Homo sapiens: one gene and its partner. The protein of the gene in region 1 interacts with the protein of each later gene in a biochemical or structural test. Each region holds a gene or a part of one and is shown in the gene's direction. Other genes may lie near its edges.

Evidence for each region.
Region 2: the proteins of KRT14 (region 1) and TCHP form a complex in vitro, tested with the Homo sapiens proteins (one study listed by BioGRID).

What each region holds. Positions count from the first base shown.
Region 1 is NC_000017.11:41,584,092-41,590,243, reverse strand, and holds the start of KRT14 (keratin, type I cytoskeletal 14), read left to right. Parts: upstream 1-3,348; 5' UTR 3,349-3,409; coding exon 3,410-3,934; intron 3,935-5,186; coding exon 5,187-5,269; intron 5,270-5,830; coding exon 5,831-5,987; intron 5,988-6,152. UniProt on the Homo sapiens protein: The nonhelical tail domain is involved in promoting KRT5-KRT14 filaments to self-organize into large bundles and enhances the mechanical properties involved in resilience of keratin intermediate filaments in vitro.
Region 2 is NC_000012.12:109,903,274-109,906,773, forward strand, and holds part of TCHP (trichoplein keratin filament-binding protein), read left to right. Parts: intron 1-647; exon of another isoform or gene 648-663; coding exon 664-874; intron 875-1,463; coding exon 1,464-1,520; intron 1,521-1,555; exon of another isoform or gene 1,556-1,741; intron 1,742-3,298; coding exon 3,299-3,367; intron 3,368-3,500. UniProt on the Homo sapiens protein: Tumor suppressor which has the ability to inhibit cell growth and be pro-apoptotic during cell stress. Inhibits cell growth in bladder and prostate cancer cells by a down-regulation of HSPB1 by inhibiting its phosphorylation.

The sequences.
Region 1 (6,152 bases):
AAGCTGGAAGAGGCAAGGAAGGGCTCTTCCCCAGAGTCTTCAGAGGGAGTGTGGCCCTGCCAACACCTTGATTCAGGGCTTATGGTTTCCAGAATGTATTCCAGAGAGAATACATTTCTGTTGTTTTTTTTTGAGACGGAGTCTTGCTCTGTTGCCCACGCTGGAGTGCAGTGGCGTGATCTTGGCTCACTGCAACCTCTGCCTCCCGGATTCAAGTGATTCTTCTGCCTCAGCCTCTCGAGTAGTTGGGACTACAGGCACCTGCCACCACACCTGGCTAATTTTTGCATTTTTAGTAGAGATGGGGTTTCACCATATTGGCCAGGCTGGTCTTGAACTCCTGGCCTCAGGTGATCCACCTGCCTTGGCCTCCCAAAGTGCTGGGATTATATTCGTGAGCCACTGTGCCCAGCCAGTTGTTTTAAGCCATCAAATTTGTGGTAATTTGTTATGGCAGCCCTGGGAAACCAATCTTACTTGTCTGTGCTTTTCTTCCATTTGTTTGTATGTTAAGTAATGTTGATGTGCATTCCTGCTTCTCTTTCATGCTGGGACCTTCCTAAAGGCAGGGATCGTCTCTTCCAGTAGGCCATGCACTCCAAGGGCGGGGGCTGTCCTGAGGTTTCCTCCTTCCTTAGGATGCCATCTCCTGGTCCCCAGCACAGTCCTCAGCACACAGTGTGGGCTCTGGAGGTGCTGCCTGGCCCTGCCAGCTTCACCTGTTTGGATTGGCAGAGGGCTCCCCCATGCAGGGTGGTGCAGGGAGACTCACTAACCACAAGAGGTCCTGCCCGGGGCTCCTCCTTTACCCCCCTCCTTTTGGGGCAGGCTGGAGGGAGGGTCAGGTAATGGTGCTCACACAAAGTCTGCCTAGAAGTCCAGAGGTGGGGGGTACTCTGGGCCTCAGCAGTCAGGACTGACAACCCTTTAACCCCTGATGCCCCAGAAAATGCCCTCCCTTAAAATGTCTGAGTACCATGCTTCTTTGGCATCAGGGAGGGGAGGGGAGTGTGGTGTCCTCTAAGTCTGCTCCCTGCTTGGCTGGGTTGTTTGCAGCTCCTTGGTCACTGAGTCCTTGTCTGCAGGGGTTGGCCTCAGGCTCCAGGTTGGGTCACGGTTCTAAGACCGGGTGTGGGGGATCAGGCTTATATTCCATGCTAGGGTTCTGGTGTTGGTGCGTGGGGTTGGGGTGGGACTGCAGAAGTGCCTTTTAAGATTATGTGATTGACTGATCTGTCATTGGTTCCCTGCCATCTTTATCTTTTGGATTCCCCTCGGAGGAGGGGGAGGAAGGAGTTTCTTTTGGGTTTTATTGAATGAAATGAAAGGGAAAGTAGAGCTGTTCCTATGTCCCGGGCTCCGGAGCTTCTATTCCTGATCCCTGCATAAGAAGGAGACATGGTGGTGGTGGTGGTGGGTGGGGGTGGTGGGGCACAGAGGAAGCCGGTACTGGGCTCTGCACCCCATTCCCGCTCCCAGATCCCTCTGGACACAGCATTTTTCTCCAGTGAGCACAGCCTCCCCTTGCCCCACAGCCAACAGCAACATGCCTCCCAACAAAAGCATCTGTCCCTCAGCCAAAACCCCTGTTGCCTCTCTCTGGGGAAATTGTAGGGCTGGGCCAGGGTGGGGGGACCATTCTCTGCAGGGAGATTAGGAGTGTCTGTCAGGGGCGGGTGGAGCGGGGTGGGGCCCTGGCTTACTCACATCCTTGAGAGTCCTTTGCTGGCAGATTTGGGGAGCCCACAGCTCAGATGTCTGTCTCAGCATTGTCTTCCAAGCTCCTAGGCCACAGTAGTGGGGGGCTCCCTTCTCTGGCTTCTTCTTTGGTGACAGTCAAGGTGGGGTTGGGGGTGACAGAGGGTCCTGCTTCTCTTCTAGGAGCAGTTGATCCCAGGAAGAGCATTGGAGCCTCCAGCAGGGGCTGTTGGGGCCTGTCTGAGGAGATAGGATGCGTCAGGCAGCCCCAGACACGATCACATTCCTCTCAACATGCCTGCCGGGGTCTGTGGAGCCTAGGGGCTGATGGGAGGGTGGGGTGGGGGCCGGAAGGGTTTGCTTTGGGAGGTTGTCTGGGAGATTGCTGAAGTTTTGATATACACACCTCCAAAGCAGGACCAAGTGGACTCCTAGAAATGTCCCCTGACCCTTGGGGCTTCAGGAGTCAGGGACCCTCGTGTCCACCTCAGCCTTGCCCTTGGCACAGCCCAGCTCCACTCCAGCCTCTACTCCTCCCCAGAACATCTCCTGGGCCAGTTCCACAAGGGGCTCAAACGAGGGCGCCTGAGCTGCCCACACTAGGGATGTTCTGGGGGTCTGAGAAGATATCTGGGGCTGGAAGAATAAAAGGCCCCCCTAGGCCTGTTCCTGGATGCAGCTCCAGCCACTTTGGGGCTAAGCCTGGGCTATAACAATGCCAACGAGGCTTCTTGCCATACTCGGTTTACAAAACCCTTTCACATACATTGTCGCATTGGATTCTCAGAGCTGACTGCACTAAGCAGAATAGATGGTATGACTCCCACTTTGCAGATGAGAACACTGAGGCTCAGAGAAGTGCCAAGCCCTGGGTCACAGAGGCGTAAATGGCAGAGCCAGGACCCACCTGACTCCAGGCTGTTTCCTGGCCTCCATGAGGCCACCTGCCCTATGGTGTGGTGGATGTGAGATCCTCACCATAGGGAGGAGATTAGGGTCTGTGCTCAGGGCTGGGGAGAGCTGCCTGGATTTCTCTTTGATGGGGATGTTGGGGTGGGAACCACGATACACCTGACTAGCTGGGTGTATTTCAGGGATGGGACAGACTTCTCAGCACAGCATGGGAGGTCAGGCCTGGGAGGGCCCCCCAGACCTCCTTGTCTCTAATAGAGGGTCATGGTGAGGGAGGCCTGTCTGTGCCCAAGGTGACCTTGCCATGCCGGTGCTTTCCAGCCGGGTATCCATCCCCTGCAGCAGCAGGCTTCCTCTACGTGGATGTTAAAGGCCCATTCAGTTCATGGAGAGCTAGCAGGTAACTAGGTTTAAGGTGCAGAGGCCCTGCTCTCTGTCACCCTGGCTAAGCCCAGTGCGCGGGTTCCTGAGGGCTGGGACTCCCAGGGTCCGATGGGAAAGTGTAGCCTGCAGGCCCACACCTCCCCCTGTGAATCACGCCTGGCGGGACAAGAAAGCCCAAAACACTCCAAACAATGAGTTTCCAGTAAAATATGACAGACATGATGAGGCGGATGAGAGGAGGGACCTGGCTGGGAGTTGGCGCTAGCCTGTGGGTGATGAAAGCCAAGGGGAATGGAAAGTGCCAGACCCGCCCCCTACCCACGAGTATAAAGCACTCGCATCCCTTTCCAATTTACCCGAGCACCTTCTCTTCACTCAGCCAACTGCTCGCTCGCTCACCTCCCTCCTCTGCACCATGACCACCTGCAGCCGCCAGTTCACCTCCTCCAGCTCCATGAAGGGCTCCTGCGGCATCGGGGGCGGCATCGGGGGCGGCTCCAGCCGCATCTCCTCCGTCCTGGCCGGAGGGTCCTGCCGCGCCCCCAGCACCTACGGGGGCGGCCTGTCTGTCTCATCCTCCCGCTTCTCCTCTGGGGGAGCCTGCGGGCTGGGGGGCGGCTATGGCGGTGGCTTCAGCAGCAGCAGCAGCAGCTTTGGTAGTGGCTTTGGGGGAGGATATGGTGGTGGCCTTGGTGCTGGCTTGGGTGGTGGCTTTGGTGGTGGCTTTGCTGGTGGTGATGGGCTTCTGGTGGGCAGTGAGAAGGTGACCATGCAGAACCTCAATGACCGCCTGGCCTCCTACCTGGACAAGGTGCGTGCTCTGGAGGAGGCCAACGCCGACCTGGAAGTGAAGATCCGTGACTGGTACCAGAGGCAGCGGCCTGCTGAGATCAAAGACTACAGTCCCTACTTCAAGACCATTGAGGACCTGAGGAACAAGGTGGGTGAATGGGCAGCAGAAGGCACCATTCCAGCTAGCTCCTTCTGGGAACAATTCATGCCCCAGGCCCCTGAGACCTTAAGATTTCTCTATAGGACAGAGTCCACCCCAGATCCCTTCTTTCGAGGTCTTGGATGCCCTAAGACTGATCAGTGAGAAGATGCTTTCCCTTCCCCAGCCTCCTCATCCCCTTCTGATCTCAAATCCTCAGACCATGTGAGATCAGTGATTCCTATCCTTACATTTTTTAGAGGAAGCAGTTGAAGCTTCGAGAGGTGCTGTGACCAGCTGCAGGTCACATAGCAAATTAATGGCAGAGCCAAGGCTGGGGCCCTTGTGCCCTACCTTCCAGCACAGGAGGCAGCTACTTGTTCTCCAGCACAGGGGAGGAGTGAGGCTCTAACGGGACCAGGCAAGACATCCAAACCACTCATTAGCTCACTAGTCTGGGCTGTGGCTGCCGCCGCCCATAAGCCTTGGTACAGGCTGGTCCCTCCCCACAGCCAGGCGGGCATGGAGAGCCTGCAGAGACAATTAGTGTGGTCCCTTGATGTGCCCTGCACAGAGAGAGCCTGGCAGGCTTGTGCCCTGACTCTAGCCCCCTCCTCCCTGCTCCCACATTACTTGGGAGCCCTCCCTGCTGGAGTCTGTTGGGCTCTAATGACTTGCATGGATTAGGGAAATTCAATGATGAGGTGGGGAAATCCAACCAGACTCAGGGGCCAATATATCTTCTTATTCTTCCCCTGAGTCCTCTTTTCTAATCCCCTGTGTTAGTTGGGTTTTATCTCTTGAGAAAGTTCCACTTGAAGTCCCATGGCCTGTGAGCTTGAAAAGGAATGTGCATATCTGCAGAGGACTGGCAGGGCTGGCTGATGCAGACAGAAGAGAGGTCAGCTCAGGAAGGAGGGCTAGGGAGCCTCAGATTATTCTCCTCACCTGGAGGTGGGGAACTTGAAGCCCCAAGACCCATTAGGTTTTGCAGCAAGACACTGGCAGAATTGGGACCAGAACTCCTGGGCTTTCGATTCTAAGCCCGGGGCTGCATCTACCCCCTCTGTTGACCATGAGTTAGCAAAGTCTTAGGACAGGCCTGGGGCATCTGTTTTCCTTTGGGCTGCTATGGTCAAGTTTTGTGGGGGAAAAGGGGGATTCAGGCAAGAACATGAAGCAAGAGCTTAATGTAGGCTACAGTGAAGTCCAGCTTGTGAAGTCCATTTGACAAATTACCTGTGCCTTTTCCATCCTGCAGATTCTCACAGCCACAGTGGACAATGCCAATGTCCTTCTGCAGATTGACAATGCCCGTCTGGCCGCGGATGACTTCCGCACCAAGTGAGTTTGAAATGGTGGGCCAGAACATCCAGTGTCCCCAGAGTAGGGCATTTTTGGAGCAGTGTTTCCCAAATAGAACTAGCCAGTACCAGGATAGGTGCATGAAAACTCCCTGGGGTGCTTATAAAAGAATAAGACTCTTGGGCCCCACCCTTGGAGTTTTGATTCAGCTATTTATAGCAGGTTACCTGGGTGATTCTGGTCCACAGCCAGGTTTCAGAACCGCTGCTTTAGGGAGAGGCACTTTCCACTTCCCCAGCTGCCCTTGAAGTATAGGAAGGAATCATAGTTGGAGGACTTCTGCATTATTTGTTGGCTGAAGCTAGAAGTGCAACCCCCTCCTGATTTCTGCAGCAAGATGAACTGCCTTATCCCCAGCCCGCAGGAATGTTCATATCTGAGCAATCAATGGGCACTGTGTTCAACCACGCCATTTTCAAGATTGGCTCCTTAAACCACCCACAAGGCACCAGCTCTGGGAGAAGCTGCAGGGAGAAGAGAACAAAGCCCTCGCTGTGATCAGGATGGGTGTCTCATACCTTTTCTCTGGGGTCATTCCAGGTATGAGACAGAGTTGAACCTGCGCATGAGTGTGGAAGCCGACATCAATGGCCTGCGCAGGGTGCTGGACGAACTGACCCTGGCCAGAGCTGACCTGGAGATGCAGATTGAGAGCCTGAAGGAGGAGCTGGCCTACCTGAAGAAGAACCACGAGGAGGTGAGAACTATATGGAAAAGTCAGCTTAAAAGAAATGCAGGGAGGCTGGGTACAGTGGTGCGTGCCCATAGTCCCAGCTACTTGGGAGGCTGAGACAGGAGGATCACTTGAACACAGGAGTTTGAGTCCAGCCTGGGCAACAAGGCTAGACCCTGTCCAAAAAAA
Region 2 (3,500 bases), on another chromosome or scaffold:
GAGGCCTTAAGGATTTAGGGAGCGTAGGATTTGCCAGGCAGTATGAATTACCTGCATGGTGATGTTTTTCCAGCTGGAAATGGAAAAAAAGATCATCAGTGCAGCCATACATTGGCATTGAAAAAGATAAAATGATGCAGAAGCATATGATAGAATTTGGAAGCCTGGTTGTAACCCCATATCCCCAGAGACAGCCACAGTTAACAGTCTGGCACATATCCTTCCATGCTGTTTCCCACTGGTATTTGTGCTTAAATATACACACACAAAGCTACTTTTATAGAAATACGTGTAAAAACATGGAGGCCAAAAGCATAGGCTTTGAAGTCAGACCTAGATGGAAATCCTGACCGTGTCTCTTGCTGAATGTATGAGCTTTGGTTTCCTCATCAATCAAGTGGGGCTACAGCAGACCTATGCTGTAGGATTTATGTGATGGATAATATATACATTATTTATACATTTATACATTTTCTTTTTGCAAAAAACAAGATTTTCTCTTACACATACTATTCTGTGACCTGCTGTCTCTGCTTTGGCTGGGGACACATTCCTGTGTCGTCATGACACATCTACCTCAGCCTCTTTTACCGACACAGCAGAGCAGAGCACGTTCCCTGTGGCTGTAGCATGATTGATTCAGGCAGGCCCCCTCTCACCCAGCATGCATGCCTATCAGCGGGAGAAGATGAAGGAGGAGAAGAGGAGGAGTCTGGAGGCCCGACGGGAAAAGCTCAGGCAGCTCATGCAGGAGGAGCAGGACCTGCTGGCCAGAGAACTGGAGGAGCTGAGGCTGAGCATGAACTTGCAGGAAAGAAGAATCCGGGAGCAGCACGGGAAGCTGAAATCAGCCAAAGAAGAGCAGAGGAAACTGGTAACTCCCCAGAGGGCTTCAGGAGGCTGTGGAGCAGGAGTGTTCCCAGCCTGAGTGTGTCGCACATGTAGGGTCATTCCTGGGTGCTCAGGTCTGATGAGATGCCAGTTAACTCCAGAGCCAGCAGGAAAAGAGCTTAGGTCCTTGTGCAGGGACTGGGTTTTGGATCAGTTAGCTGTAGTCTCTTTAGCCCCTTCAATCATTACATCTGAGTGCTTTTCCTTTCTTCCAGTTCTGTGGGTCCACAGAGATCTGGGACTAGTCTGTTTTACCTTCCAAAGTAGTTATGTGAAACAGTGAGCCCTAATCTGTGCTTTTCAGCCTGCTGTATTATTTTGAGACCCCCTAGATAGGACCTCTGTGTAGCATCAGATTTTGGCCCCCTTTTGTCATCATTGCAAGAGTCACTTGGTAGTGCCATGTGGTTCTCAGAGCTGTGCATGTGAAGCATGAGGGTTTGAACAGTGGTTGCAGTGACGGTGTGAAGGGAGGCACTCATAGCCTGAGCTGACTTCCACTGTGTGTCATCCAAAATGTGAATGGATTTGAAAAATGACATCAGGCTTTCCATTTTGTGTTTTCTTGATAGATTGCTGAACAACTTTTGTACGAACACTGGAAAAAGAACAACCCGAAACTTCGAGAGGTGAAAATCAGAGATCTCCATTGATTTATCTAAGTAGATGAAATCATGTTTCCAGACACTTTTTTTTTTGAACACGTATCTTGTACCGGGTTGAAACAGAGGAGGGAACCTTGAGCCACCTGAAAAGAGCGCCAGGCAGAAGATCTGGCACAGGCTGCGCTGAGCGGCTCATTCGGTTGTTGAACAAATGTTGATTGAACCTCCGCTGCCTGGTCTGCCAGGTGCGGGCATGGAGATTAGACATGGTTTCTGCTCATTAGCTTGTGTCCAGCATGGGAGCTCATTACAGGGCAGGATGCAGGGTGCTGGGCCAGCCTGAGAGGATGAGCATGGGCCAGCGCACTCAACTCTGGAGGGGTTGGGGAGGCTTCCCAGAGGAGTTCCTGGGGTGGAAGAGTTTGAAGGGATGTATGTGTGTAGAGGTGAGGAAAGGATGTTCTAGGTTGATGTGACTGTGAGAACCAGGCTTGAGACTCGAGAACAGAGCGAGCCCTGGGAGCTGAAAGTGTCTGGGTGAGGCTAGGATGTCAGATAGTGAGGGAGAACCCCAAGAAATGACGCTGGCGAGGCAGAGGGTGCCAGACATCGGAAGAGCTTGTGTGACCTTCCTCCAAAGGGGCTGGGGGCAGCATACAGGATCCCAGCTGCATTTCAGAGAGACTCCTCTGGTAGCAATGTGCCCGCCGACAGGGAGGGGTGCTGCGACAGCCCAGCCGGGGGTTGGTGAAGGCCTGAACTGGGCTGGCAGGGGAGGGGGTGGCCTCTTGGCTTGGTGGCCTTGTTCAGTGGAGATTTGGCTGCAGGGAGATCATCCCTCACTGTTATTCATTTATTTTCAACTTACAGTTTTTGTATACATTTGGTGCCTTCGTGTTATTCGTAGTTACATTTAGAAATCGCCAGGCACTAAATAATGGAACATCTGGTGCTTTTGTGCAGTTTGCACTAATCTGTGGGAGGACTCCTTAGCCCTGTTGGCTTCGGTGGAATCATCCAGAGCCGTTAAATCAGAAAAGTTTATTCAGAACATTCAAGTTAATTGCCTATGTTCACAGCTGTAAGTTGGGAAAGATTATTTTAAAACTTTTTTATAGAGACAGGGTCTCCCTGTGTTGCTCAGGCTGGTCTCAAACCTGGGCTCAAGTGATCCTCCCACCTCAGCCTCCCGAGTAGCTGAGACTACAGGTGGGCGCCACCATATCCAGCTAATTTTATAAACAGTTTCCCAAACAAAAGATTTGGATTGAATGTTGTGATCCATTTTCTAATCCAGGAGATTGTCTGCGCTCAAATCTCTTACTAACAATGCTAAACTTGTTGCACCTACTGGTGCATCACTTGATACAGGGAGTACGTAGTCCATCTGCTTTGCAGAGGAAACTTCGGGGAGCCAGGCACAGGGTTGAGTCTTCTCACTCAGCTGTCTCCCAGGGCCTGGCATGCAGTACATCAACCCAAGGTGGCCTTTGAAATTGTATTTCCATTTCAGCGTCCAGCCCAACCCTAGGGCTAGTGGGAGGGAAGTCTCTGTTACTTTGTACCAGCTCAAAAGATTGGTGTAGGAGTGCCTGGTCCTTTGGTCTTCTGATTGACATGCATTCACACTATACATGTTGAAGTCACCCCACGCTCTCTACTAGACGCCTGTGCCACTGAGTCCCCATGAAGCGAAGTCATGGCCACGTTCCCGCAGGTGGCACAGAGGGCAGGAGCACACTGTCCCCACAGTGCCCATCTGTCTGGTGAGGAAATTCACATCGTCCCCCTTCCATCCTCAGATGGAGCTGGACCTTCACCAGAAGCATGTCGTAAACTCTTGGGAAATGCAGAAAGAAGAAAAAAAACAGGTGTGGTATGTGGCTCTGGGAATAGCCGCGTATTCTGCTGTGCGAGACTGTTCACGTCTTTGCATTCGTTTACCGTTTTCAGCATCAGTGACTCCAGTTAAGGAGTGTAGTGTACTCTTTTCTTAGTTTACTT